Linked DNA regions of Homo sapiens. The protein of the gene in region 2 interacts with the protein of the main gene of each other region in a pairwise test. Each region holds a gene or a part of one and is shown on either strand. Other genes may lie near its edges.

What was found. The genes of interacting proteins can lie anywhere in the genome.
Region 1: the proteins of BDKRB1 (region 2) and RETREG1 interact in a two-hybrid assay, tested with the Homo sapiens proteins (one large-scale study listed by BioGRID and IntAct).

What each region holds. Positions count from the first base shown.
Region 1 is NC_000005.10:16,610,498-16,613,997, forward strand, and holds part of RETREG1 (reticulophagy regulator 1), read right to left. Parts: intron 1-3,500. UniProt on the Homo sapiens protein: Endoplasmic reticulum (ER)-anchored autophagy regulator which mediates ER delivery into lysosomes through sequestration into autophagosomes.
Region 2 is NC_000014.9:96,255,049-96,259,009, reverse strand, and holds the start of BDKRB1 (B1 bradykinin receptor), read right to left. Parts: upstream 2,801-3,961; 5' UTR 2,710-2,800; intron 1-2,709. UniProt on the Homo sapiens protein: This is a receptor for bradykinin. Could be a factor in chronic pain and inflammation.

The DNA of each region.
Region 1 (3,500 bases), on a different chromosome or scaffold from region 2:
AATCTACTCATCTGACAAAGGGCTAATATCCAGAATCTACAAAGAACTTAAACAAATTTACAAGAACAAATCGAACAACCCCATCAAAAAGTGGGCGAAGGATATGAACAGACACTTCTCAAAAGAAGACATTTATGCAGCCAAAAGACACATGGAAAAAATGCTCATCACTGGCCATCAGAGAAATGCAAATCAAAACCACAATGAGATATCATCTCACACCAGTTAGAATGGCGATAATTAAAAAGTCAGGAAACAACAGGTGCTGCAGAGGATGTGGAGAAATAGGAACACTTTTACACTGTTGGTGGGACTGTAAACTAGTTCAACCATTGTGGAAGTCAGTGTGGCGATTCCTCAGGGATCTAGAACTAGAAATACCATTTGACCCAGCCATCCCATTACTGGGTATATACCCAAAGGACTATAAATCATGCTGCTATAAAGACACATGCACACATATGTTTATTGCGGCACTATTCACAATACCAAAGACTTGGAACCAACCCAAATGCCCATCAATGATAGACTGGATTAAGAAAATGTGGCACATATTCACCATGGAATACTATGCAGCCATAAAAAAGGATGAGTTCATGTCCTTTGTAGGGACATGAATGAAGCTGGAAACCATTCTCAGGAAACTATCACAAGGACAAAAAAACCAAACACTGCATGTTCTCACTTATAGGTGGAAACTGAACAATGAGAACACTTGGACACAGGAAGGGGAACATCACACACCAGGGCCTGTCATGGGGTCGGGGGAGTGGGGAGGGATAGCATTAGGAGATACATCTAATGTAAATGATGAGTTAATGGGTGCAGCACACCAACATGGCACATGTATACATACGTAACAAACCTGCACGTTGTGCACACGTACCCTAGAACTTGAATAAAAAAAAAAATCACATCAGAGACGCTTTCTAGGCTGCAGATGTAACATGCCCAAAAGAGGAGCTGCATCATAAGCCATTAAATTTCAATACAGCGATCAGCAAGACTTAGGAAACGGACCTTTCACTCCATTCTGTGCCTATCCAAGGCAACCATCAGGGCTTACCACTTTCCTCACCAAAAACAGACACTTCACACAAAGATTTCTACGTGATGTTTTCCAATAGCTTTATTCATAATAGTCAAACATGAAAACTACCTGAAGGAACATCAACTAGCAAATGGATAAACAAATTGTGGTACATCATCAAAGTGGTACACTACCCAGCAATACAAAGCAGCAAATAACTGATACACACAGCAGAGATGAATCACAAAACTACGCTGAGTAAGCAAAGCCAGACACAAAAGACATCACACACTTTAGGAGGCTGAGGCAGGCAGATCACCTGAGATCAGGAGTTCGTGACCAGCCTGACCAATATGGTGAAACCCTGTCACCACTAAAAATACAAAAATTAGCCAGGCTTGGTGGCATGTGCCTGTAGTCCCAGCTACTCGGGAGGCTGAGGCAGGAGAATCGCTAGAACCCAGGAGGTGGAGGTTGCAGTGAGCCAAGATCGCACCACTGCACTCCAGTCTGGGAGAGAGAGAGAGACTCCGTCTCAAAAAAAAAAAAAAAAGGACATCACCCTATCACCCTAAATAACACCATTTATACAAAGCTTTAGGGAAGTCCAACCTAGTCAACAGTGACAGAAACAGATCAGTCCCCAGGGGTGGGTGCTGATAGAACAGGGATGCAAAGAAGCCTTTAAGGGTGATGAAATATTCTAGATCTCAACTGCCAGTATGGTTACACAGGCACATATGATACATTTGACTGTATACTTACAGTATGGGCATTTTATTGGTGGTAAACCACAAAAAGTTGATATTTAAAAAAAAACCAACATTTTCTATTACATTGGGCTCATTCCATTTCAGGATGTGCTTACAAGTACAACATGGGTTGCTTCTGAGAGGAAACTGCGTAGACAGGGACAGGCGTGGGAAGACATCAAAATGTTTACCCTTCTGTACATTTAAACATCTGAACTGTAAGGCTATGTTAGTTAATTTTTAAATAAATAAAATTTTAAATGAAGGAAAAAATTCTAAAAACATGTTCTTCATTGGTGAAATGAGTGAGATAGTATTATCTGAGGCCCCTCATCACCACAAAACTATGGGACTGTTACCCAATCTACTTCAGTTGTGGAAACCCTGCTTTTTGAGACAGGCACTCTATGTGGCCTCTATTTTACCAAACTCCTCTGAGTTCTCATGAATATCATTTTTTAGCATTTTTTCATATTTCAGTATTTTTCATAAAATATACCATAGATAAGAATGCATATGTGTGTGTGTGTGCCTGCACGTCTCGGATTCGAGAATGTCTTTTATTTTCTTTGTAGTTTTATCCCCTATGTGTGTATCCCTAACCAATCCTGTTCAGTTCCTGCACCATTTAAAACTTAATTGAATCATTCAGCATATATTACTTTGTGCATCTTTTGACCAAAATTACATTTGTAAAATTCATCCCTGTTGTTGCTAAAGCTGTATTTTCATTGTTATATGGTATCACAATTTATAATAAATAAATGAACCACAGTGTACTTATCCATTAAATTATTTGTGGATACTTCTACAAAGTATTTTTTTTTTTGGTCCCTGTTGCCTACAGAAAAAACAAATCCAAACACACAACATAGCATCTGAGGCAACTACTGCCCCCACAAACCACCTAGCCAACCTTATCTCCCACTACATTTTCTACCAGCCCATGCTGCCATTGCATCTGTTTACTGTGTAGTGGTTGAAATATTAGGTACACCTTCAAGATGCTATTGTGTTCATTGTATTCCTCAGGGTTAGAATGCTCTTGATCATCTACTAGATCTCCCAAATCATTCTTATCCACTGAGGTTTAAGCATGATCTCCTTATTAAGAACCCCACAATCTCTTCCATCCACAATACCACGTTCCCCAAAACCATATCAAAATGAATTATCCTTTCCTGAATCTTCCACCACACTTAATTCATGCAACTTTTAGTTATACCCATTGGTTACGGCTGTGTCACAATTTTTGCCCAAAATCTTGCAGATAATGGGCAGGTAATAAATGTTGAAGCTTTTGAGTCAAATTCAGACTCCTAAAACCCACTGCTAATGCCAGGTGCTAAATCATTCAAAAATATATCTTTAAAAAGTTTACTTCCACAAAAATGAAATACATCAATTAAAGTGAAAACAACATCCCATTGCTTAAGACAGATTTGGTTGGGTTCCCCACAGTTTTAAAATTGATCTTTTTTTCTCATAGAAAATACAGTGCTTTAGAGTTCCCAAGACACAGAAGGTTAGAGTATCACATAATTTAAGATCATTTGAGAAGAAATACATTATTTAAAGAAAACGTAATGTCCTTGAAAATCATTTTAACCCCCAGAGCAACAAATAAAAGGGAAAAAAAAACAAAATTTTAATGACATTAATAAATGGGTCATAAATTCCAATGAATTATAATGCAAAAGCAACAAGTAATTCTGAAC
Region 2 (3,961 bases):
CATTTCAGCTTGTGGGAAGAATCTTTTTAATTGGATAAATTCATGTTCTGTATGAAATGAGATGAAATTGAGAAAGCCAATGATTTTTTTTTTTTTTGCAGTATCTGAATCTGACAAAACATTCAAAACTTATAAGTAGGTACAACTTATTTGAAAGGTTTAATCTGGTTAAAAAAAAATACGTGTGGGCTGGGCACGGTGTGGCTCATGCCTGTAATCCCAGCACTTTGGGAGGCTGAGGCAGGTGGATCACATGAGGTCAGGAGTTCAAGACCAACCTGGCCAACATGGTGAAACTTTGTCTCTACTGAAAACACAAAAATTAGCCGGGCATGGTGGCAGGCGCCTGTAATCCCAGCTACACAGGAGGCTGAGGCAGGAGAATTGCTTGAACCTGGGAAGCGGAGGTTGTGGCGAGCCAAGATCGCACCACTACATTCCAAACTAAGGCACAAAGACAGCACCTGTGAAAATATCTGGGCTAAAATATTTATGCAATTCCATATGCAAAGAATTGGACTTGAGAACAGCCTCTGCCTGGCAGAATTTGCTGAGAGCTTATCACTCAGAACCTGCACAGGGAACATTTTCTCAATATATTATGGTTCAAGAGAAGAGTCAATTGAAGGTACTAATTTAAATTTGTTAATTGTAAAATTTGTGGAAAAAAGATTTCAGGCAATTATATGGAAAAATTAAAAATAACAAGACCCCACTGAAGAAAATACATTCTTGTGAAAAATGCCAGTGACAGGGTATCAGTCAGGTACAAGAAACTGTAGCATGTGAATATACAACAAGAACAATTATTTTGCTTATCTTATTTTTAAATGTTCAGTTGATTAACATAAACATGTTTTCTTTTGCTTTAATATTCATAGGTGTATGCATATATATTTAAAGACTTTTTTGAAAATAGTTTTTATCTAGAACTACTTTATAACACCATCAATATAATATAACCATTTTGTTGGATTTTTTCCCCTTCCTTCCTTCCTTCCCTTCATTCCCTCCTTCTCTCCTTCCCTCCCTACCCTCCTTCCCTCCTTCCTTCCTTCCTTCCTCCATCCCTCCCTTCCTCCCTCCCTTCTTCCCTCCCTCCCATCCTGCTTTCCTTCCTTCCTTCCTTCCCTTCCTTCTTTCCTTCCTTCCTTCTTTCCTCTCTCTTTCTACCTGTAAATACTAATTTTTGGGGGAAATAATTTTTGACTATTGGGGTGCCCCGGCAGTGTGCACACACATGGCCTGACCATCCCTCTCCTAGCTATCTCTGATGATGGCCAGGAAGCTGAGGTCTATGGTGACAGAGGCTGGCAGGTGGGAATCTGTAGAATTCCCCGGCGATTGGTTGGGATTTCTCAGGGAGAAAGGAGGCGAGGTCCTGACCTGTGGTGGAGGGGCTGGGGCATTGAGAGTTTGAGAAGAGATGGGAGGGTGTTGAGCACTGATATGGTTTGGCTGTGTCCCCACCCAAATCTCATCTTGAGTTGTAGCTCCCATAATTCTCTCGTGTTGTGTGAGGGACTTGGTGGGAGATAATTGAATCATGGGGATGGAGAACAAAGCCAAGCCAATATCTTGACTTTAGCTCAGCGAGACTGAGTTTGAACTCCTGATCTCCAGAACTGTAAGATAATAACTTGCATCGTTTTAAGCCACTCACTTTGTGATAATTAATTATAGCAGCCTTAGGAAACCAGCACGGGGGTGAGGCTGCACCCTGCCCAGGAAGCCAGAGACGACCAGCTACGCAGGGACTTTAGCTCGAACCTGATTAGGTCAGTGGACACCGCCCCCATCCCCAGGACGGGGAGGTGGCTGGGGCCACTGCAGCCACAGCATGTGTCTGCTCACATGGGGCTTATTTTTAAAGGGATTGTCCTCACCTGCTGCTGTCTGTGTTTATAAAGTTGGCTAGAGAGGAGAAATCTTCCTTTGCCAGTTTTCAGCTTTAGCTCTGATATTTGCCTGGAACATAGTAGGTGCTCAATAAACAATATCTCTGGATATTGTTAGTAATATGTGACCCTATTTGAAGAACTCAGAAGGGGCACTGGGCAAGTCTACAAGAGATGGCAATTCTGTAATTCCTGTGTGGTATTTTCTGAATTCTGCACATTTTAACCTAGGCTATGAGACAGTGTGACTTTCTTCAACAAATTAGTTAATTCTTCAAATTAACTCCAATTTCAACAGCATGGTGATGTTAAAGGCATTGGAAATTCAGCCACAGATGTTAAAGACCATCAGCACGGTCACATAGTAAGATGCTACTTTCAAGCCACGAATAACCCAACCAGTTATTGGTCTTATGAAATCTTGTAAGCCATCCCAGAGAGACTAATTTAATTTTTATGATTCAGAATTTGCAGGCTGTAACTGGTCAGTCCATGCGAACTCTGGTGGCTGCATTCAGCCCTGACATGTTTCACCTGACTTTGATATAAGGAGCTACTGGAACCTTCCTACGAGTTCTAAAACCTTTCCCTCCTCCTCCTGTTCTGGAAAAGCAATTAAGACCCAAACTAGGCATGAAATAAAAGTCTCTTAAATTGATTTAGAATTATTTTTAAAAAGTACCCTCACAGAAGTGGAAAATTTTGCCAATAGGTAGGTGTAAAAGGAAGTTTTTTGTTTTTCTAAGAGACACAGATTTCCTCTCATATTGTACTCTCATAAAAGAAAAAAAAAAGGTGGTCATTTACTTACTCAGGCAGAAAATGAAGGCGTTCACAACTGTAGTTGGGTTTTCTGATAGTGAGAGCTGCTTTTGGAGGAGTTTTCTCTTCTGGGAAGTGCTGTGGAGATGTGGTTGCTTTAAATTATATAACCTCCGCTCCAGTGATGTCATTGTGGGGATTGCCGCAAAAGTGAGTCTTTCGGGACTCACTCCAAGTGGATTTGGAAGGAAAAATCCACTCTCATTTCACTTTGCACTTTAGGGATGATAAGAGATTATTCAGCTACCATCTCCCCCTTTACTTTGGTACCATCTGCAGAGGTCTGCAATCCTGCCCAAGACCTGTATGTTGGCAAACACGCCCTAAAAACATGTTTTGACATCGCCAACTTGCCCCAAGGCTCGCAAAGTGTCAGTGAACATTGAGGGATGGCTTTTGGCCCCTTCACTATTGGCTTCTGAATGTCTGGGGCTCTGCAGCAGCTTTTGTGGGAGCCACTTCGAATGGCCTCTTTTGAATTTTGGTCATGAAAGATACATCGCCAAGAATCCATCAGAGTGGACCCATCACACAAACAGAGAGCTAGGAAAACGTTTGACTCATGCAATGTTCAGAGTTGAGTAAGACCAGATACATTTTTTCCTAATCCTCCTTGGCGTCTCTCAAATTATGTCTGCATGGGTCAAGTTGAACTACTCAAGACCTCATGTTTCAGACAGTAAGATATTTTTGGCTTTGAGAATCAGGTGACAAGATTCTCCAACTGAAGGCCCCTTACCTGTCAACTTACAAATTAAGATCTTTCCAGGCCACCCCCTACACGTAGGAGAACTCATTCATGCCAGAATTCAGGACTTCGAGTCTGACTTCTGGAAAGGTGACCCTCCAAATGTTTGGAGCAGAAGGTGTCACCTCTGTCTTTAGAATCTTGCCTTTTGCTTGTGTTCCCTTTTTCTGCTAGTGACATCTCAGCGGGAGCCAACTGCACTTCAAGTTTTCCTGCTGTCTTCTCCTGTTGCTGAAGACCTTAAAACTGTGGAAGTAGGTGGAACAAATAGCATTCTGAGGCTCAGTAGCGGATGTACATTTCAGGGAAGAAGCTGGAATTTGCCTTAGAGGATAGGATGGTCCCCTCCTATCAGGAGAGACCTCCTGGGTGGGATTTTTAATAAAAAAAAATTGTCAACAGGCAAGCATCTTCCATTACTCCCGGGATAGATCTGAACCGGAGGAAGGCTCCAAATCTTAGCCTTTCCTGTTACTTAGTAATGTAGGCGGGG